Linked DNA regions of Homo sapiens. The protein of the gene in region 1 interacts with the protein of each later gene in a pairwise test. Each region holds a gene or a part of one and is shown in the gene's direction. Other genes may lie near its edges. The genes, in order: PRKAA1, PLEKHA4, TOMM34, KIF16B, MORC4 and RAD54B.

Evidence for each region.
Region 2: the proteins of PRKAA1 (region 1) and PLEKHA4 interact in a two-hybrid assay, tested with the Homo sapiens proteins (one large-scale study listed by BioGRID and IntAct).
Region 3: the proteins of PRKAA1 (region 1) and TOMM34 interact in a two-hybrid assay, tested with the Homo sapiens proteins (one study listed by BioGRID).
Region 4: the proteins of PRKAA1 (region 1) and KIF16B interact in a two-hybrid assay, tested with the Homo sapiens proteins (one large-scale study listed by BioGRID and IntAct).
Region 5: the proteins of PRKAA1 (region 1) and MORC4 interact in a two-hybrid assay, tested with the Homo sapiens proteins (one large-scale study listed by BioGRID and IntAct).
Region 6: the proteins of PRKAA1 (region 1) and RAD54B interact in a two-hybrid assay, tested with the Homo sapiens proteins (one large-scale study listed by BioGRID).

What each region holds. Positions count from the first base shown.
Region 1 is NC_000005.10:40,760,375-40,763,874, reverse strand, and holds part of PRKAA1 (5'-AMP-activated protein kinase catalytic subunit alpha-1), read left to right. Parts: exon of another isoform or gene 1-852; coding exon 853-1,097; 3' UTR 1,098-3,500. UniProt on the Homo sapiens protein: Catalytic subunit of AMP-activated protein kinase (AMPK), an energy sensor protein kinase that plays a key role in regulating cellular energy metabolism.
Region 2 is NC_000019.10:48,841,118-48,844,617, reverse strand, and holds part of PLEKHA4 (pleckstrin homology domain-containing family A member 4), read left to right. Parts: intron 1-3,307; coding exon 3,308-3,469; intron 3,470-3,500. UniProt on the Homo sapiens protein: Binds specifically to phosphatidylinositol 3-phosphate (PtdIns3P), but not to other phosphoinositides.
Region 3 is NC_000020.11:44,957,598-44,961,547, reverse strand, and holds the start of TOMM34 (mitochondrial import receptor subunit TOM34), read left to right. Parts: upstream 1-1,150; 5' UTR 1,151-1,214; coding exon 1,215-1,341; intron 1,342-2,010; exon of another isoform or gene 2,011-3,211; intron 3,212-3,240; exon of another isoform or gene 3,241-3,255; coding exon of another isoform or gene 3,256-3,304; intron 3,305-3,950. UniProt on the Homo sapiens protein: Plays a role in the import of cytosolically synthesized preproteins into mitochondria. Binds the mature portion of precursor proteins. Interacts with cellular components, and possesses weak ATPase activity.
Region 4 is NC_000020.11:16,570,649-16,574,893, reverse strand, and holds the start of KIF16B (kinesin-like protein KIF16B), read left to right. Parts: upstream 1-1,445; 5' UTR 1,446-1,618; coding exon 1,619-1,665; intron 1,666-4,245. UniProt on the Homo sapiens protein: Plus end-directed microtubule-dependent motor protein involved in endosome transport and receptor recycling and degradation.
Region 5 is NC_000023.11:106,976,213-106,979,712, reverse strand, and holds part of MORC4 (MORC family CW-type zinc finger protein 4), read left to right. Parts: intron 1-1,513; coding exon 1,514-1,633; intron 1,634-3,028; coding exon 3,029-3,129; intron 3,130-3,500. UniProt on the Homo sapiens protein: Histone methylation reader which binds to non-methylated (H3K4me0), monomethylated (H3K4me1), dimethylated (H3K4me2) and trimethylated (H3K4me3) 'Lys-4' on histone H3. The order of binding preference is H3K4me3 > H3K4me2 > H3K4me1 > H3K4me0.
Region 6 is NC_000008.11:94,405,616-94,409,115, reverse strand, and holds part of RAD54B (DNA repair and recombination protein RAD54B), read left to right. Parts: intron 1-1,395; coding exon 1,396-1,677; intron 1,678-3,500. UniProt on the Homo sapiens protein: Involved in DNA repair and mitotic recombination. May play an active role in recombination processes in concert with other members of the RAD52 epistasis group.

The sequences.
Region 1 (3,500 bases):
ATTTTTTTCTTCTTTATAAACTCAAAGATAGTACACACATAGTAGCAGAAAGACACAGGTTTGAGCCATGATATGTTGGCCAAACCAGTTTGTCTGGTTATCTTTAGGTCCATATAGTACGTATCTGCTAACATATACTAATGCAGTCTGAAATACGGAATGAGTTTTATTTTTCTTGTATTTGGATCAAATTTGCAACCTTAGATTTACTAGTACTGGGGTATACCAATTGAATGCCCATTTTGTTTTTGTACTGTGTTCCCAACCTTAGTTTTTCTTCGATTTTTATTCATTGGAATTGTTGCTCTTTTATGAAATACTAAATGAAATATGAAGGGAAAGTGGAAAGTAAAAAGCACTGAGCTGAGACTTAGGAGAGTTGGGTTCTAGACTTACCTTTCTGTTCATTTGTTACCTTGGGCAAGTCATTTCTCTGGGTTTGTTTTCTTATCAATAAAGTGAGGGGCTGGATGAGATGGTTTCCAGTATACCCTCCAAATTTTAAGTGCATCGATTCTATGATTTTAATATAGAGGGATTACTTTTTATTGCTATAGAATAATATTTATTAATCCCTAGATTGTTGGTTTACTGGGCTCTTAACCTTGGATTGCAACTGATGAGTAGCTATACTGTACCCAACTTTGGTTAGCTATCTTGAGAATACATACTATATGTAAAAAAGATGAATAGTTTAATACAGGCTCATTGACTGTTTTAGAAGGTATTTAGAATAAGCGTGCTCTTGATAGCTGGCCAGCAGCCCCACTTAAAGAAGCAAATTCAATACTGTTACAAAAATTTTTGGGAGAAGGTCATAGACTATAATAAATTGAAATTCTTTTTACCCAGATGAAATTACAGAAGCCAAATCAGGGACTGCTACTCCACAGAGATCGGGATCAGTTAGCAACTATCGATCTTGCCAAAGGAGTGATTCAGATGCTGAGGCTCAAGGAAAATCCTCAGAAGTTTCTCTTACCTCATCTGTGACCTCACTTGACTCTTCTCCTGTTGACCTAACTCCAAGACCTGGAAGTCACACAATAGAATTTTTTGAGATGTGTGCAAATCTAATTAAAATTCTTGCACAATAAACAGAAAACTTTGCTTATTTCTTTTGCAGCAATAAGCATGCATAATAAGTCACAGCCAAATGCTTCCATTTGTAATCAAGTTATACATAATTATAACCGAGGGCTGGCGTTTTGGAATGCAATTTGCACAGGGATTGGAACATGATTTATAGTTAAAAGCCTAATATGCAGAAATGAATTAAGATCATTTTGTTGTTCATTGTGCAGTATGTATATAGCATAATATACACAGTGAATTATAGGTCTCAGGCTTACTTGATTTTTGGCTATTTTATATTTAGTGTACACAGGGCTTTGAAATATTAATTTACATAAAGGCCTTCATATATTATTACGTGTTATATATTACGTGTTATAAATTTATTCAATAAATATTTGCCTAGAATTCCCAAGACCTTTATAGGTGATTTTGTTTTCTGGGCTCCTTAACTTCATAAATAGCTAGTATCTTCCAGCAGTAGTAACAGTCTGGATAACTTCTTCCATATCCCTCCCTCTTTGTTTTTTTGAGACAGTGTCACTTTGTCACCCAGGCTGGAGTGCAATGGTGTGGTCTCGGCTCACTGCAACCTCCACCTCCCGGGTTCAAGTGATTCTCCCGCCTCAGCTTCCTGAGTAGCTGGAACTACAGGCGTGTGCCACCACACCCGGCTAATTTTTCGTATTTTTAGTGTAGACGGGGTTTCACTATGTTGCCCAGGCTGGTCTCGAACTCCTGACCGCGTGATCCACCACCTCAGCTTCCCAAAGTGGTGGGATTACAGGCGTGAGCCACCGCACCCGGCCTCCATATCCCCCTTTTAAAATTCTGTAGTGTATGGTAAGTCATATCAGATATCAGACCTAATTTAAATTTCATTTTAGCTTTACAAGTCCAAAAACACAGAATTTATATATTCAGATACTCTAGCACTAATTTTAGTCTTAAAATATTCCCACGATATTCTGTACACAAAATGTTCTTTTTGTTACAAGAGCTGAGTTGCATATACTGTAGATAAATCATATTATTTTTGCCAATTTCACAAATTCCTCTGGCCCATCATGTCAGTCATTATTGAGTATATGCACACATTGCTACTTATTTGATTATGTATCTTTTAAATTGATTCAGTGCATAGAAAACTATCTCTTACAAACTTTAAGTGCTCTGATATGACTTCCCCCCCAAATTTTATTATGAACATTTTTAAAAACAGAAAAATTGAAAAACTGTTTGGTAAGCACATGTATATCTACCATTTAGATTCAGCAGTTGTTAATGTTTTGTCATTTGTTTTCTCTATACCTATATATGTATAGATACAGCTAGTTATGCATATATATGCATATATGTGTTTGTTTGTGTATGTATATATGCTTTTTTCCCCCTGAACCATTTGGATGTTACAGACATACTTATCACCGTGAAAATACTTCAAGTATCTCCTACAGATAATGACATTCTCCTAAAAATCCGTAATACCATTGTAAAAGTAATAATTCCCCAATATCATCTAATCAAGCCATATTTAAATTTCTGAAGTTAACTCCAAATTTCTTTATAGCTGATTATTTCAAACTAGGATCCAATTAAAGTTTACATATGACACTTGGTTATAACTCTTTAGTTGGATATAACATTATTATTATTTTGATAAAATATGGAACAAATCAATTCTATTAATAAGTGGTCACATTTGTTTTGGGCTTAAATTACTTTTTAAAGATACTGGATTTTCCTAAGATTTCTGATTTACACTGATATTTTTTTTTGTCATTCTTAATTGCATCACACAATAGATGTAAATGAAGATGTAGTCACCTCAGATAAAATTGGTATCGTGTATGATAATATTGTATCATTTATATTTGCCTTATGTTAACTTTAAGAAATTGATTTTTTTGTATTAATCATTTTCCCATTGCAACAGAGCTATATTTTTTCTATTTTAAGAATCATATTTTAGGATTATTTTTGGCAAATACAGTGAGCACTTATGTAACCAGATGATAATGAACTCAAATGTCATGATAGCTTGCATAAATGGTGACTCTAGTAGATTTGACTCAAGCACTTCTAGAATCATGCACTGAATTCAAAAGAAAAATCTTGCTGCTTTTTGTCCAGGGCTTGTTCTATTCAACTTCTAATTTGAAAGCTGTACAAAGTAATAGAAGTTCCATTTAAATATGAGTTCAAAACTGTATTTACTTTTTATGTGGCCCTCTCTTTAGGGGATTCTAATTTTACTTAGGGTCTCTAAGTGCAGCATAATGTTCCTGATGTTAACAGAAGACTGTATTTTTAAAGTTACAAATTTGTATATGGAATTAAGTAATGGCGCTATATACGCTGTTGTGGGGAGGGGGGAAGAAAAGGAGGAACCAATTAAATAGGACCTTTTAAAAATTGTTAATTTT
Region 2 (3,500 bases), on another chromosome or scaffold:
AGTACGGATCCATCACTGATTGGCCAGCCCTCAGAAGCATGTGACCATCACTGATTGGCTGATTTTCAGAAGCTTGGCTCCATCACTGATTGGCTGGCTTTCAGAAGTCTTTGGGGTACCTGTTGGGATTACTTGATCAAATAGATTTAAAAGCACTTCTTGGGGCTGGGAACCGTGGCTCGTACCTGTAATCCCAGCACTTTGGGAGGCCGAGGCAGGCAGATCACTTGAGGTCAGGAGTTTGAGACCAGATTGACCAACATGGTGAAAACCCTGTCTCTACAAAAATACAAAAATTATCCGAGCGTGATGGCGGGTGCCTGTAATCCCAGCTACTTGGGAGGCTGAGGCAGGAGAATCGCTTGAACCCAGGAGGCAGAGGTGGCAAAGACCCAAGATTGCACCGTTGCACTCCAGCCTGGGCAACAGAGCGAGACTCTGTCTCGAAAATAATAATAATAATAATAATAATAATAATAATAATAATAATAATAATAAAATAAATAAGGCATTTCTTGGCCAGTGGTATTGGCTCATGCCTGTAATCCCAACACTTTGAGAGGCCAAGGTAGGTGGATCAGTTGAGTCCAGGCGTTCAAGAGCAGCCTGGCTAACGTAGCAAGACCCATCTCTACAAAAAAATAATAAAAAGTTAGCTGTGGCCAGGTGCAGTGGCTCACACCTGTAATCCCAGCACTTTGGGATGCCGAGGCGGGTGGATCACCTGAGGTCAGGAGTTCAAGAGCACCCTGGCCAACGTGGCAAAAACCCATCTCTACTAAAAATACAAAAATTAGCCGGGTGTAGCAGCACGCACCTGTAATCCCAGCTACTTAGGAGGCTGAGACAGGAGAATCGCTTGAACCTGGGTGGCTGAGATTGCAGTGAGCTGATACTGCGCCACTGCACTCCAGCCTGGGTGACAGAGCAAGACTCCATCTCAAAAAATAAAAAAATAAAAAATAAAAAGTTAGCTGTGCGTGGTGGTGCCCACCTGTGGTCCCAGCTGCTTGGGAGGTTGAGACGTGAGGATTGCTTGAGTCCAGGAGGTCAAGCCTGCACTGAGCCATGATTGCACCACTGCACTCCATCCTGGGCAACAGAGGGAAACCATGTCTTTAAAAAAAAAAAAGAAAAAAGACCGCGTGCGGTGGCTAACGCCTGTAATCCCAGCACTTTGGGAGGCCAAGGTAGGCGGATCACAAGGTCAGGAGTTCGAAACCAGCCTGACCAACATAGTGTAACCCCGTCTCTACTAAAAATACAAAAAAATTAGCCAGGCGTGGTGGCACATGCCTGTAATCCCAGCTACTCGGGAGGCTGAGGCAGGAGAATCGCTTGAACCTGGGAGGCAGAGGTTGCAGTGAGCCAAGATCGTGCCATTGCACTCCAGCCTGGGCAATAAGAGTGAAACTCCATCTCAAAAATAAAATAAAATAAAATAAAATAATTTAAAAAAAAGAAGGCATTTCTTGTGCTTACTTGTTATCATGGATACAAAAGCAATCGAGCCTTTCCTAGGAAGAGAGGAGAGGCACTTTTTGATTCTCAGTGGTGTGTCATGGGCATGGATGATTGGAGCCTGCTGGGAACATCACTTATCTTGGGACATGCTCCTCCCTCACCCCAACCGGGTGGTTTCAGGGGCTGCCAAGGTCCAGAGCACAGGGGTGGTCTAGTGAGTTCCAGGGATTTCAGGGTTTAGCAAAGAAAAAGCTATGACCACCAGATGGCAGTAGCACACAGGAGCTTTATTTGGTGGACACTGACAGATTTGTCTATGGGGGAGTCACACCCAGTGTGAGACCCTCCAGAGGTTACTGTGTGAGGGTGAGGACCACTGCACAGGAAGGGAGGAAGGCAAGGGAGCTCCCAAGAGAAAGGGACTGGAGAAGGGGCTTACTTCTGGGTGATGCCAGCCACCAGCATGTGGAGGTTTCTCTGGATCAGAGAGGTCCAAAGAGCAGCAGGGGCTTGGGGCTCATCTTATCTATGGGTAGCAGATGTTGGGCACAGTTTCAGGGTATACAAAGCAGGCAGACTGCATAGCTAAAAATACCTGCTTATTAAGACTATGTTTAAAACAATTGGATGTGTAGAAATCTGAGTGTGCTGCTACCAAGCTTTTAGGCCAATGGTCTGGCCTGCTGTGAAGAAATTAACAACATTGGCTGGGCGCGGTGGCTCACGCCTGTAATCCCAGCACTTTGGGAGGCCGAGGCAGGTGGATCACGAGATCAGGAGTTCAAGACCAGCCTGGCCAAGATGGTGAAACCCTGTCTGTACTAAAAATACAAAAAAATTAGCTGGGCGTGGTGGCGGGTGCCACCTACTCAATCCCAGCTACTTGAGAGGCCGAGGCAGAGAAGTGCTTGAACCCAGGAGGCGGAGGTTGCAGTGAGCAGAGATTGCGCCACTGCACTCCAGCCTAGGTGACAAAGCGAGACTCTGTCTCAAAAAAAAAAAAAAAAAAAGAAAATAAATTAACAACATAGGGTAATATACAGTGGCCACTGGCCATCATTTATATAAACAGGACTCAGGATTGGTCAAAGCAGAGGAAACTGCAGGGACTGGTTCTACAATAAGCACAGATCCATGCTATCTCACTGGGATGTTTAACTGGAAGCTTCAGCAATGAGTGCTCTCTCTGTCTTTACTTTTTACTTTTAGATACGGGATCTTGCCCTGTCACCCAGAGTGAGGTGCAGTGGCACGATCATAGCTCCCTGAAGCCTTGAACTCCTGGGCTTAAGTGATCCCCCTGCCTCAGCCTCTTGAGTAGCTGACAGGCATCCACCACCACATCTAACAAGTTTATTTTTTGTAGAGATGGGGTCTTGCTATGTTGCCCAGGCTGGTCTCAAACTCTTGGCCGCAAGTGATCCTCCCACCTCAGCCTCCCAAAGCTCTGGGATTACAGTCACCCACCACTGCACCCGGCCTTCTCCCTCTCTCCTTGTTTAAGCAACATATATATATATATATATTTGAGACAGAGTCTTGCTCTGTTGTGCAGCTGGAGTGCAGTGGCGTGATCTCGGCTCACTGCAACCTCCACCTCTGGGGTTCAAACAATTCTCCTGCCTCAGCCTCCTGAGTAATTAGGATTACAGGTGCCTGCCACCACGCCCAGCTAATTTTTGTATTTTTAGTAGAGATGGTATTTCGCCAAGTTGGCCAGGCTGGTCTTCAACTCCTGACCTCAAGTGATCCTCTCTACTCAGCCTCCCAAAAGTGCTGGGATTACACGAGCCACTGTGCCTGGCCTAAAGGTTGGGTCTTGGGACGTTTCTCGCCTCCCTAGGCCCCGGTGGCCCGGCCCCGGATGAGTGCCCAGGAGCAGCTGGAGCGGATGCGCAGAAACCAGGAATGTGGACGGCCCTTCCCTCGCCCGACCTCCCCCCGGCTTCTCACCCTGGGAAGGACACTGTCCCCAGCCAGACGCCAGCCTGACGTGGAGCAAAGGGTGAGGGGAGGAGGGCTGGGGCTGGGCGGTG
Region 3 (3,950 bases), on another chromosome or scaffold:
AAAAAAATCCAGGAGAAGGAGATAACAAGCAAAGGCTAGGAAGCAAGAATTTAGTGTGTGTAGATAGCAATGCGTGGGACATAGAGTCGTCAGATGAGGCTGGAGATAAATTGAAGTCACACTCTGTGAAAGATCTTCATCCATTCTGAAAGCTGATCATACGAATTGGGTCATTCTTGTCATATCCAACTAAGACAGAATTGAAAAGCCAGGGGAACAAATACTCAGGGCATATAACATTGCTCCAAAAAAGTAATTTTTTGCAAGCCTGGCTGCTAAAACTGCCTGCTGTAACCTAAAACCAGTTTTATCTAATAGCTACTGAAACAGCCTGCTACAATTCTGAGTTTTATCCACCACTATCACTTACCAATCAAAGCTTGCCAGCTCCCCAAGAAGCTGATAAACCCCCACTTTACTAGTGCCTGTAAACTTCCTTGAAGAGCAATATGTAACATTTCTGTTTTATAAAAATCTCCAAACCTTCTCTTTGTTCTTCTGACATACCAAAGACAACCTGGTCTGTGTGTAAGCCCTGAATTGCAATTCTTGATTGCCAAATAAAATATTTAAACTTTAGAGATTCATCTCTATATGTTGACTTTGACACCATCAATCCACCTGTGCATTAATTTATTAAATAAATATCTATAGAGCACTAGGTACCAGGTACTTTCTAGCCTTGGAACCTTTGCACTTACCATCCCTCTGGCTGGAACAGCATTCCCTAAATCTTGTCTGGTCTCAGCTCAACTATTACCCCCTGAGAAAGGCCTTCCTTCATCCCCTTATTTAAAATAGCCCACACGTGGTCACTTTCCATTGCATTATCCTGTTTTGTTTTCCTTACAGCACTAATCACATGAAATGAGAGTCTTCGTTTGCTTATCAGTTAATTGCCTGTGGGGACCCCACTAGGACATAATCTCCCTGATAGCGGGGCCAGCCTCCTTCCCTGCGTCATCCACGGCGTTCTAGCAACTCAGGGAGCCCAGAGCATGCTGCCGCCCCGCGTGCAAGGGAGCCTAAGTTCCAAACCGAGCACGCGCAGAGGGCGGGACGCTCCGGGCCTCCAGGTCTCGCAGGCCCCGCCCCCTCGCCGCGGGTTCGCTGTTGGGCGGAGATATTCGCCGCCGGCGCTTGCGCCCGGAAGGTGTGCCGCACCACACGGGGGAGGAAGGAAGGAGCTCCCAACTCGCCGGCCTGGCCACGGGATGGCCCCCAAATTCCCAGACTCTGTGGAGGAGCTCCGCGCCGCCGGCAATGAGAGTTTCCGCAACGGCCAGTACGCCGAGGCCTCCGCGCTCTACGGCCGCGCGCTGCGGGTGCTGCAGGCGCAAGGTACGACCCCGGCCCCCATCTCACCTCCGGGCCTGCTCCTCCAACTCCCGCAACCACCGCCCGGGCCTCGCGCGGCGGCCAGCAGTCCTGCCCGGCCCTCCCACCCTTCCAGCCCCTTCCGACTCCGGCATCCTACCAGAAACTTCCTCGGCCCTTTCTTTCCACCTGCTTGTTAACTGCCCTGTTGGCCCCCATCCTAAGTTATTTAGGCCTCGTTCTGAGCCCTGAGAAGAAAGCTAAACCCTCCTCCCCCGCAGCAATTCATTTTTCAGTTAGTATTTGTTGAGTAGCTGTTATATACCGCCTGTGTAACAAGACACAAAAAGTCCCTTCTCTCAAGGACAGCGCATTCTTGTGGGGGCGGTGGGGAGGACGTGAGTCTTAAGCGAGTCAGTAAGTAAACGAGACCTGTGGGATAATCAGGGTTAGGAAGAAGACAAATAGGGTGATGTGATAGAGTTGACTGGAGTGGGAGATCAAGGGCAACATCTGTAAAGAAGTGATATTTGAGGTGATGTCTAAATGATGAGAAGCCAAGCGCACAAGGTTTTCGGTCCTGAAGTGAACTGCAATGAGAAAGGCCCCCCCTCCAAGACGATATAAACATGGTGTGTTTCAGGGGTCAAAGCATAGTGAGCCAGGGCAGGGAATAGGAAGACATGAGGTCAGTTAGGAAGGCAGACCCTTATTTATTGTGGAGGTGTTGTAAACTCTGCTAAGGAGTTCGGATTTCATGCCAAACTGGAAGCTTGGCATGAAAGCTGCTGGATGGGAAGCTACTGGAGAGTTTGAAACAGAAGAATAGCATATTCTTACCAGTTCTCCCAGCGTCCAGCTTTCGTCAGCATACCGCAGACCTTTGCCCAAAGCCCCTTCTCCAGGGTGACTTAATCAGAAACCCTCATTGGTTAAAGCCTTGACTTTTGAAAGGAGCCTTGGATCCTGGTTTCTGTGAGTCACCGTTCAGTACCTATTTCCCTTTGCCGCCTTCCTTTTTTTCCTTTTCTTGGCTAGCATCTCTTGAGTGATTTACCATGTGCTAGACATTTTAGACACGATCTCCTTTGATCTTTATTATGGCCCTGTGGATAAAATGCTTAGAAAGGAGGAGTCCAAGAGAGTTAAATTGGCTCCCTCGGGGTTACATAGTGAAGACATGGAAGAGCCACGATTTGAATATGGATCTGTTTGACTTTGATGCTAAGTCCAAATTTTTAATCATTTTGCTAGACCTCTCCTCACATCCTCTCCAGATTTCATTCTTTTTTTTTTTTTTTTTGTCTGCACTTTTTGCAGTTTCAAGCCACTCCTTTGCCCCCTTCTTTGTTCTAGAAAACTCTCCTTTAGGCCCACTTCCTCATGGCAGCCTTACTTGATGAAGTTGCTGAAGAAGCTGAGGTATTGATGTTGCTGCCATTTTCATTCATCTCACCCCAGCTGGTCTGGAAAAGCTTGTACATTTGTATGGGTTAATTCTGGGTCCATAGAAAAGCTAGCCTGGTATCTAGATTTAGCAAGGACCGGAGTTTGGTTCTGCTGCTGCTACAGATTTCCTAGGTAATTTTGGGCAAGTCTCTTGATTTATCTGATCAGTCTTCTTGATCACGAAGAGAGCTCAGGGAACAGGCTAACACAATGAACCCTTCCAGCAAGTCTATGAAGTGATATCCTCATGTGGTAGGTGGGCACGCATGATCAGAGGGATGGAGTGACTTGTCCGGATCGCAGGGTTGATGCCCTTTCCACCGCACCACTGCTGTTTCTGAGCAACCGTACTCTGGTGACTCAAGATGGATTACAGGTTTTGGGTACTTAGCTCCTTAAGGGCAAGGATGTATTTTACTAGTCTTTGTACTTTCCGTCTCTGGGCCTGGCAAAACAAGAGGGGAAAACGCTTGTTATTGTTGGTATTGAATGAAAGATATCAAATATCAACATGGCAACAGGATACTGAGTGAAAAAAGTAAGTTGCAGAAGGATAGGCAATATGATGCCTCTTAGGAAATGCTTTAATAGACATAAAATGGTATCTTTCCTGTTAACACACACACACACACACACATATATATACATATACATATATATACATGTACATGTATACATATATACATATACATATATACATATATATGTAAATGTAGAACATGCTTGAAAATGTTACATACCAACTTCAGGATTGTACTGGCCTCTGTGAGTCTGGGGAGGGAGCACAGGGATAAGGATGGGGATGGCTGGAGTTTTAGCTTATCAAAAAAATTTTTAAGGGTTGGGTGCCATAGCTCATGCCTATAATCCCAACACTTTGGGAGGCCAAAGCGGGAGGATCACTTGAGGCTAGGCATTCAAGACCAACCTGGGCAACACAGTGGGACTCTGTCTCTACAAAAACTTTAAAAATTAACTGGGCTTGGGGGTACACACCTGTAGTCCTATCTGCTTGGTAGGCTGAGCTGGGAAGATCACTTGAGCCCAAGAGTTTGAGGCTGCAGTGAGCTATGATTGTGCTACTACACTTCAGCCTGGGCAACAGAGGGAGACGCTGTCTCTAAAAATTAAAAAAGTTGGGAACTAATATAACGTGCTAAATCTAGTGGTGGATTCTGAGATAA
Region 4 (4,245 bases), on another chromosome or scaffold:
CCACCCGTTGGTCAAATTCGCACCCAGCTCTGCTCCAGACAGAGGGAAAACCCAGTGATTTCCGGGCTCTAGAAACAAAGGGAGGCTATGATTCCCTGCTGGCCCTAGGGGTCCAGGGAAGGTTATGGAAAGATAATTCTTTGTGTAAGCGGGTTGCGTACTTGCAGACATCATCCCACTTGATGCATTCACCACTCTATGCCGTTGTTCCTGATTTGCAGATGAGACAAGAAGCCTCAGAGGCGCCCAGTAATTCAGAATTACAGGCTGACAAGGCTAGTGTTGGAGCTAGGACTTAAAAACAGGAGTTCCGCCTCCATTCCTTGCGTCTCCCATTATAGCTTGGCTTCCTGGAATGGCTGCTCCTGTGGCTCGCAGGTGGGCTTCTGGGTGTGCGCAAACGATTTCATGCATGCTCGATTCACTGAATGAATGAATGCATTTACCTTCTACACAGGAAGGGAGGTGGAGCTCACTTCTACCAGAGGCCCTAAGCCTTAAGATACCAGTTGTCGGCCTGGCGCGGTGGCTCACGCCTGTAATCCCAGCATTCTGGGAGGCCAAGGCGGGCGGATCATTTGAGGTCAGGAGTTCGAGACCAACCTGGCCAACATGGTGAAACCCCGTCTCTACTAAAAATACAAAAATCAGCCGGGCGTGGTGGCACGCCCAGCTATTCGGGAGGCTGAGGCAGGAGAATCTCTTGAACCCGGGAGGCGGACGTTGCAGTGAGCCGAGATCGCAGCATTACACTCCAGCCTGGGTGACCGAGCGAGACCCTGTCTCAAAAAAAAAAAAAAAAAAAAAAAAATACCAGTTGTGTTCGCCTTTAACTCCCTTATGATTAAAACTAAAAATTACTAAAGTGTACAAAAGTGCAAAACAAGTCTAAATAAGGTTTGATTCTAGCCAATATAATGACATTCCCGCACACATTTAAAACATCCAACACCCTATTAATTTTCGTTTATCGGTATCCCGAGTTAAGGGGTCCAAAACATACGGTCGGACCTCCTTAGGGTAGCAGAGAAGGCCCTAGCGGAGTTTGCCACCAACAAGCTGTGATCATCTCTGCGCCTCAGTTTGTTCGTGTGTAAAATGGATACGTTAACTCATGTTTGGCTGGGTGAAGCCAGGTTCTTGTTAAGGGCTGAAAAACTGGCTTTGGTCACCTGACCCCAGGACTGTGATCCTTGCCGCTGGCTTTAAATTGCTGCGATCCTCTTCTCTCCAGTTGTTCAGGCCATGAGGGTGGGTTCTAGTTTTCCTGAAACCATCCGCTCCGGGTCGCCCCCATAACCTCTGCGCCAAGGTCCACAACGTGGCCTTTCCAGACTTGCAGATCCCGGAGGCTGCTTCCAGGCCCCGCGGCCCCGCCCCTCTGCACCGCCCGGCCGCCGCCAAACCGTGGCGCATGGATCACGCGGGCCGGAGCCGTTCTGGGCATGCTCAGTGGCCTGGCAGGTGGGGCTGCCGCGGAACTCCAGGTCCGGCCGGGAGCAGAGGGGCGGGGGCGAGAGGGAAGTGGGCGGGAGCCGCGATCTGAGTAGCCAGCGTCGCCGGCGACCGCGGAGTTCTGGGCTAGTGGGACCCCGCGCGGGCTGGTTCGGGATGAGCGATGGCATCGGTCAAGGTGGCCGTGAGGGTCCGGCCCATGAATCGCAGGTGAGTGGGGCCGCCCGCGCCCCGCCCCCTCGTCGCGCCCCCACCCAGAGGAAGCCTGTTTCCAGCTCCCCCAAAGCCAGCCTGGACTTAAAAGTGTCACCGGCTGGTCCCTGGCCCACCGGGCCCAGGCTGTGGCCTCTGGGGGCCTGGAGGACTTCGTGCACTGCTGTCCCGTTCACATTGCCCTGGAGAGGACCCTGGTGGTAAAGGAGAAGATTCTATTAACTCTCTCCATCGTATTAACTTGAGATGTTCTTGTTCCCCCTTTAAAAAAGCATCAAGGGAACGTTACCATGAAGATGTAAAATAGTTGGGGGGAAGGTGAGAGTGCTGAGGGGGGGCACCACGAACTGTCAGGTGAACCCCTCATTTCTACCAACTCAGAAGTTCTCTTAACAATTAACCATGCTACTTTTTAATCTTTCAGTTAGAGATGATTTTGATTCCCTGAATGTCTAATCGATAACTTAGCAGTTCCTAACTTCATGTTAGAGAGTGGATGGGAAAACTTTGACAAAGTCCTGACTCCTAGAAAAAAGTCAGGGACGCTTTACACGTGTTTGAAATACTCTGATATTAAGAGAGAGGAAGAGTGTTACACACAAAATTTAATCTTGTTATATATTTCTACGAAGTAATGCTTTTTCAGAATCCTTCTCTTCATTCACTGAAAAATAGCCTGTGCTCCCTTTTCAATGACCTCTTTTTAATCCGTTTAGAAAGTTTCTTTGGAAAAGTTACTTTTTAAATTGGTTTGACTTCAAAGAATGAGGTAGAAATGGGATGTGTCCTCCAAGGTGACAGGCAAGGTTCACACAGAGCCATTTGATTTTATTGACTTCTCTACCAAGTTGGTGGATATTTGACTTACCATAGGGCCTTTTTGCTTTTGTCATATCAACTTGTGGAGGTTAATGTTTGGTAGTTCTGATGCCTGATTGGGGCAGCCGAAGGCCATAAAATCAAAAGATTTCCAGAACCTTATTTGACTCATCTAAATCTGTTTCTTCTCTTGGCAAGTAGGGAATCATTATTTTGGTTTGTAATCATTAAAACCCAGTGTTTTCAGAATCTGCTTTTTGTGACTTTTGAGTTATTTCTAAAGCTGTTTAGAGTAAGAGTTTGACTTTTTTGCTCTAAGGGAATATTTTTGTTTCTGTGTACATTCCATCATAGAAGATAAACTTTAGAACGATTTTTCTTTATTATGGATTTTCATGTGTATAGAAGTTCTTTTTCTTTTTTGGAAAAAGGTGAACACATGCTAGAAAATTGTATTGTGTAACTTTAGAAAGTATTTGTTAGGCTGGGCGCGGTGGCTCATGCCTGGGAGCCACTTTGGGAGGCCGAGGCGGGCGGATCACAAGGTCAAGAGATGGAGACCATCCTGGCTAACACGGTGAAACCCCTTCTCTACTAAAACTACAAAAAATTAGCCGGGCGTGGTGGTGGACGCCTGTAGTCCCAGCTACTCGTGAGGTTGAGGCAGGAGAATGGTGTGAACCCAGGAGGCAGAGCTGGCAGTGAGCCGACACCGTGCCTCTGCACTCCAGCATCAGTGACAGAGCGAGACTCCCTCTCAAAAAAAAAAAAAAAAGTATTTGTTAAGCACCTACCAAACACATAGCATTCCTCAGGGTGCTGTCTGGGATACAAGGGGAATGAGACCTGGTGAGCCATGGTGAGAGAGGGATTATGTACTGGCATGAATCTTGTGAAGTATTGGGCCTGCTGGGACAGGAACTGTGAGTTCAGTGCCTTGCCAGTGTAGGCCTGGAGCCCAGGTACATGGAGGGATGGCAGGAAATAAGTCCAGAGGCCATGGGCTTTGGGGAGGCAGATTCGCGTGATGTTATTTATATTCTCAGTAGAGAACTCTGGTGGTGTCAAGATTGAGGTAAGAGGCAGGTGATTAGCAGTTTGAGCCAGAGATGAAATTGGAAGGCAGGATAGTTACAGGAAGACCACTCACTGGCAGAATTGGCAGGATTTGGCAGCTCACTGGATGGGAAGAAGGGGGAAGAATGCGAGTGTAGAGTCATTAACTGAGGTTTGATGCTGAAGGAGGTGAACAGGTTTGAGGAAGGTGGACAATGAAGTTGGTATGTTCTCTCTTGGATGTGGAGAGTTACATGAGATGTATTAAGTGTCAAGTACAAGCACAGAGCAAGTGTTTCACGCATGTTGACCTTGTTCATTATCTGAAGTGTGGGAAGGACATCCATCCCTCTGCTAGAGATGTTCAGCAGAAAGCTGAAAATGTGGGTTTAGGTCTCAGGTGATTTGAGGATCGACATTTGGAAATCTTTTGCACATAAACCACAATTTAAGGATGTTACGTGAGAAGAAAAGGGAGCCAGGGATTGGACATTGGGATATGCCCCTCTTTAGGATTTCAGGGAGAAGATTGGCTTGCAGTCCGTAAAGGAGAACCAGCACAGCAAATGGTCATGGCAGGAAAGGGAGAAGAGCATCCTGAAGGAGGTGGTGGGGGTTAGTGTCAAATATTGCCAGGATGATGAGAATAAGATGGTGTCCTTGGTCTTGAAGACAAGGCTAGTTGATAACCTTCCCAACAGT
Region 5 (3,500 bases), on another chromosome or scaffold:
GCATTCTATATGTTACCTCGACTCTTCTCAGACTCCCTTCCCATTAAACCAAATTACCTTCCGATATTATAGTTTGGACTAAACAGATTTACTGTAGACATGAGTAAAATGAAAGTCCTAATAAAATTTCCCCCAAGGTCACTGAGGAACAAGATCATTGATACTAACTTACTTACTTCTCAATTATCAAAGGCCACTTCTTTCATCTTTGTTCTCTCTCCTTATGCTAATTTGGTGTCTCCTACCCCACTGTACCCTCACTCCATAATTTAGAATTTTAAAAGTGCACAACAGAAAGAAAAATTTGACAGTCTTTATCTTTACAAAGATAATTTTATGGCATAGGATTTTGGTTTGTTTGCTTGCAGGAGTTTTGTCTTGTTTTGTTTTTGCGTTAGAATAGGTCTTATTTGAGGTTTTATATGAACTGCTAGAGCCCAGAACATTATATATTCTGAGCCAAACATTACTGTGTTATGCACCCACTTGAGTCATGTCTTTGTATCATATGTGACCCATTTGTTATAGGGTTTTGATGCAAGTAGCTTGTCTTTTAGAGGGGGCATGGAGATCATTTTTTGAATAAGTAACAAAAGTAAATTTTCATTCAACTCATTTAGACATGAAGGTTTCTTAGTATTTGTTTTAATGAAAATCTCAGTTTCTCTATCTCCCCTTTATCTTTCTCACTTACTTACCTTGGTTTTTAAATTAAGTAGGACTTGTTAAAAACTCATCATTATTCATGTTTTACTTATAATAATCAGTTGTCTTCATTTCATTTATCCAAGCTTGTTAACTTCTTCCCATGAAATATATCACTACAGGACTATTCATTGTTCTTTACCTTTGCTTTTGCTTTCATTGTGTTTGGTATGGTAAGAAGGATTTACCTTATTGGATATAATTGTACAGATTTGTATTGGACCATTTACAGCTCTTATCAGAACCTATGTGCCCTAGCAGCAAACTGAGCAACTAGCAAGGGCTAAGAAATGTTTTATGATTATTTGTCAATTTTTAAATCACTGATGGTATTTAGGTATCTTTTCTTACAGTCTTTCTATGCATGTGTGTGTGTGTGTGTGTGTGCGTGTGTGTGTGTGATGTTTTTATAATCTGAGCGTTTCCTGATATTCTCAAATATTTCAAGGACATAATTTTAAAAGAGATGCATATGGCTATATCAACATTTATTTAATCATTTCTTTATTGTTGAACATTTAAATTATTTCTGTTTCTCTGCTTTTATAACAAATTGAAAAACCTCTGTAATTCCTTAACGTTTGTGGGCCTCCCTGACTGTTTCTGTGGGATAAATTCTTAAAAAGAGAATTACTTGGTCAAATATTAAGAATATTCTTAAAGCTATTGCAACAGATGTTTAAATGCCCGCAAAAAGGTTGTACCAATTTATGTCCCTTGGTATTTGATGGTTTTTGCTATAATATGGTGTAAAATTTTGTCGTTGAAGCCCCTGGTATGTTTGTCTCCTTAACGATGTTCTTCTCAGAATAAGCAGGTGAGAATCACCTTTGGGTTCTCTTGCAAGAATAGTAACCAGTTTGGAATAATGATGTATCATAACAACCGACTCATAAAATCTTTTGAGAAGGTGGGGTGCCAGGTGAAGGTGAGTAGTTAATATTTCTTTGTCATAGGAGGCTGAAAAGAGTAGGAAGAGAATTTAAAATTTGCAAAGGGGATAGGCTCATTAATGGCTTTTACTCCCATCTTATGATGCTTATTGAATTCTGATCCTGGAATTGTGTTACCAGTGAGCTGTCTTGTGTTGAAATCTCTTTCTAACTCTCATTCTTCAGCTGTTAATCAACCCAACAACTTTACTGAATGCATTTTCTAAGTAGCTGTCAATAAGAGGCAGAATTAGAATACCAGCAAGCTTACCATGTGTGTCAGCTTATTTGTGTTTTAGGTAACTCCATTTTCTTGGAGAGACAATAAGGCATAGTGGAAGGCATATAAAATATGGTGGTTGAAGACCAGGATTTGGGTCCTGAATTTTCCATTTACAAGCTGTGTAACCTTGGATAAATTGTTTAATTTATCTGAAGCTCAATTTCCTGACCTTTATGTAAAGTGGAAACAACAATAATAAGCATACCTGCTTTGCCTGCCTCACAGCTTACAGGGTTGAGAGATTTAAATGGGATAAATTATGTGAAAATATTTTTTAAACCACTCTATACAAATTTTACCATCATCTTTAATGTCTTAATGATTATTTAAAGTAGTAATGTCTACAAGTATCCCTTTTATTCCTATTTTACAGATAAGATTGCTAAAGCACAAAAAATGATGAACTGCTTCAACATAGTAAGACAGTTATATAAAGCCCAGGATAGCTCGTTTTCAGCCTATTTTGTTTTCCCTTGTTATAGCACCTTTAGACAACTCGTGTTTGTGTTCCAGTCCAATTACACCTTTACTTAGTTTCTTCCATTAAAGAATTAGAATATGATTTAAATCTATAAAACTCTTGCGTCAACTTGTAATTAATAATTGCTGTAAGTGTGACTCTTTAGTAGTTGTTTGGTGGCCTATGTATGTGGGAAAATTGTTTATTTTAATATAGGATCACACAGAACCCTTAAAATTGTTTTCAGATGAATATTTGTTTCAGTTCCTTAGAACAGTAGTATATAACCTTGGTTTTTTAGCACGGTAATTCTTTATTCAAATGCAGTCTTATGGCAGTCCTGGAATATAAAGCAGATAAAAGTGGAGGTAGTGTGGGTGAAGTAGAGATGGCTACTAATTGCAGAAGACTCCTAGGGATCTATGGATCATATTTTGAAAATCTCTGCCCTAGAATTTGTCAGAATTTCTAGTTCAGTTTAATGCTTGCAGTCTGTTGATGTACATTCTAAGTGTTTCTCTAGATCTTGATGGTCTTTTCTTGCCCATGAAGGTTATGTAACCTTTCTATTATTGTTTGGAATCAAAAGGAAATGCCTCCAGGCAGCCAACAGTAATGTAAGTGTTGAAATTAATATTTTCTTCTAAGCCAACTCGTGGAGAAGGTGTAGGAGTAATTGGAGTCATTGAGTGCAATTTCCTAAAACCTGCCTACAACAAACAAGACTTTGAGTATACCAAGGAGTACCGGTGAGTCACTCCCAACCTGAGGTGCTTCCGTTAGTTTGTTCAGATATGATTCTGTTCTCTAAAGCCTCTAAAACCATCTCTAAAAAGCAGCTAAATAAGTTAACTGAGAATTACTTCAAATTTGTTTTCCAAGATTAGAGATAAAATGCTTTCATTTTTAAATTAAAGTTTGCTGAATGATATATGGAGTCTCGTTGAGATAAACCTTACCTTTAGAAATTATGCAAAGAGCATAGGAGTAATTTGGTAAAAGATTTCTGGGGAAATGAAAAGCTTTGGAATTGATCTTAATGGAAACAGATGAATGGATCTGAAGTTATGGAATACATTGGATAAAAAAAAGCAGTTTGAAATTTGTTCCAAAAATTTTT
Region 6 (3,500 bases), on another chromosome or scaffold:
AAAGATAGAGGTGCTAAGAAAACTGAAAGCTGGAATGCTAAAATTGCTAATAGCTTGTGATAATGCATCAGGCTCAGTTGGCCATCATTGCATAATACCTAGGAAAAAAAAAAAACCAGTATGTGAAACAAAGTTTAAGAGTAAAAGAAAAGCTTCTAGCGACTGAGATGTTTGAAAGAGTCACCTTTGGATCAAGATCATCTATGGATCTAAATGAAATGAGAGATCTTGGAATTAGAGCTACTTTAAAGGTACCTCAAAGTTAAAAGGTTATTCTTGTCTTCCATTTCCATGTAAAACTGAGATTAACAGTAATTGGATTTTATGTGAAGATAAAACTATAATCTTCATTAATTTGGATAAGTGAAGACCAATACTGATTTGGGATGGAGTGATGGGTCTTTGACATTGAGCTAAGTAATTTCTTCCTATATCAGAGCATTACAATTAAAAAGTATTCCACCATAAATAATTTAAGACTATATATTAAATACAGATTGGCACAGATTATAAATTTTAGGCCAGTTTCAGTAGAGAAAATTTTAGTAATTTTCAACTACTTGAAAAGGGTCATCATATTTTCTAAAATGTGGCAGTCTTTTATTATTATTTTTAGAGACTTAAAAGTTTCTGGTATACACAGCTCCTTTGCTTGGTAATGGCACAATAACTACACATTTAATAGTTTAATGCATTTAATAGACAAGCATGGAAGTCTAAAATGCCATCTATGTGGTTAGTGAACTCATTTTAAGCAGCCCATGACTGACTTATCCATACTTATATTTCATCAGCACCTTTACACAGCAACACTTAATAAATGTTCATCAAATTAATAATAATTCAAACAAGCTTAATATTACAAAATATTCCATGTTTTATTAAAGAGTTAGAACATGGAATATCTGTGACCTCTTGCCACAACTGTATTTTAACTTTGCTATCTCATGTGGAACAGTCAGTACTAGTTGTGGTAGCAGTTGCTTTTATTGCTAGTTCTCCTTCACATTTCTAGCTGTTTCTAAGTGAAAATAGAGGTACCATGATGTTTCTGTAGTTTATTTACAAGAAAGGAGGATACATATAGCCTATCAAACTATTTTCTTGGCTTAATTTTTCCGGACAAGAGATGGCAAAACTATAGAGTACAATAATCTATATTTTCAATAGTAAAAAAATTCTTGCTTTCTCTAAAGCATGGCTAATTTGATAGCTGTATTATTTCTTTTGATTTTCAATGTTTTTTTTAACCAAAATGTTAAATTATGCTTCCATTTTGGCTAATGCATTATATAAGACTATTTACATTCAAAGTGCAGTTTTTTTGTACAGTTACGGGAAGGTGACCGTGGTATCATAGAGTGTCAATTAATTTTTTTCTTTCTTAACTTAAAGGCATTGGTTATAAATTCAAAGAGCTTGAAAAGATTGAAGAGGGCCAAACACTGATGATTTGTGGAAAAGAAATAGAAGTCATGGGTGTAATCTCTCCAGATGACTTCAGCAGTGGCAGGTGTTTTCAGCTTGGAGGAGGAAGTACTGCTATCTCGCATTCTTCTCAGGTTGCCAGGAAATGTTTCTCTAACCCTTTCAAAAGTGTTTGTAAACCAAGTTCAAAGGAAAATAGACAGAATGATTTCCAAAATTGCAAACCACGCCATGACCCATATACGCCAAGTAAGATTTTAAAAATAATTTGAATTTTCTGTTTTTACTGTCAAAATGTTTTTTGTGTGTGAATTTGAAGTTTAAATTTTGTTTTAAAAGTTTTAGGTGAAAGTATACATTATTCTTGAGATATATAATCTGACATAAGAGATAATGTTGAAGTCAAATAACAATATAGTTTGGGAATTATTTCATATGTAAATGAATAATTCTAAGAATACAGTAATAAAAATACTGTACATGTGTTGAAGGAAACATATCTAAATTGTATGTGTATACATTACACATACATGTGTATAATTTTGAATAAAATCTGACTTTTTAGTAAGGAGAGAAATTAGTAAATGTATTAATCTGGACTATGATTATACTTCTAATTTGAGGACTGTATGCCTTGATCACAAGCATTAGTGTGTAAAAATATTGAATGGTAAGATTTCATGCAAAGTCCAAATTTTACTAGTGAAAGTTCCATTCAATCAGTTAATTTTCACACTGATGAATGCAATTTTAAAAATCACATTAAAAAAAAAGAAACCTAGATTGTATCTGATTGTTCTTTTGACTGTTCACTCAGCAGGTATTTCTTGATTGCCTTTTATGGGTTGGGCCTAAAGATAAAACTGTCATCACAGAGCTTCTCATTTGGTGAGGGGAAGGACAAGTAATCCGAATCAAAGTATAGTGTAGTAGATGTGAAAGTTGAGACATAGAGGTGACTTCTTTCCTCACAACAGCAAGTATATAAAGTAATGATTATTTTTCCCCATTGCAAGTATTATGGAAACATAAGTTTTGAAGTAAAGAGGCCTTTGAGATCATTTAGATTCGTCTCTTCACTTTGCATTGGAGAAAACTGAGGCCCAGGAAGATGAACCGACTTACCTAAATACAAATAATCAACGGCATTATTGGGACAAAACCCCACAATTAAAAATTCTGAGTTCTATATTAGCTTATCCCAAAGACTTAGTTGAAATACAGGCAGTGGAAGCTGATGCAGCTGAATTTTCTCTTTTTGTCCAAATATTTTGTCTGTCCCACCAGCTCTTTTAACAATCCCCCTCCTCTTTATTCTCCTTTCTCTTTGTACTTTTACTATTACACAATACAGGGCTGTGGGGAACTGAAAAGAATACTGTGCTTATTCAGAGATCTGAGTAAGAATCATGGTTTTGCCACTGAACTAACTGGTTCTTTGACCTCTTGGGGGTAGTCACTAACCTTCCTAATGTTTTGCCTACTCATGTGTAAAACGTGGGTCCTAATAACCACCGTAGAGATTTAGAGTGTCTAGTATATACTCTTTCCAGGAAATACTTGTTGAGTGAGTGAATGAAACATTTTATTGTGGCATTTATGTGTTGTGTGTATGTGATGTAAATGTATATATATGTGTACATGTGAATTTTATATATATGTGTGTGTGTGTGTGTGTGTGTGTAAAAGCACTTCAGGTAAATAGTAAATGGTTAATTATTCTTATGTATTTATCTTAGCCAAGGATAGAATTAGGTTGTAGACTTTAATGCCTCAGACATGTTGTTAATATTAAATGATCGTCTTCATCATTGTGAAGATAAAGAAACATCTTAAAATTTGAACTAGTGTTCTATGATTTTGACTGTTTAGGTTTCTCTTTCTTGAAGATGGGCCTTTTATTAGGTGATTTATAATCCTATAGTCCTTTTTGCTTGGGCAGTATGTGATTTTTCACCTCTATCTTCTCTTTTTCCTTGTTGTCCTTTTTAAAAGATAGAAAAATAACGGGGCCATTTCTTGACTGGAAATCCACAAGGAGCACACTCTTACTTTGCTACAGTGATATAGAG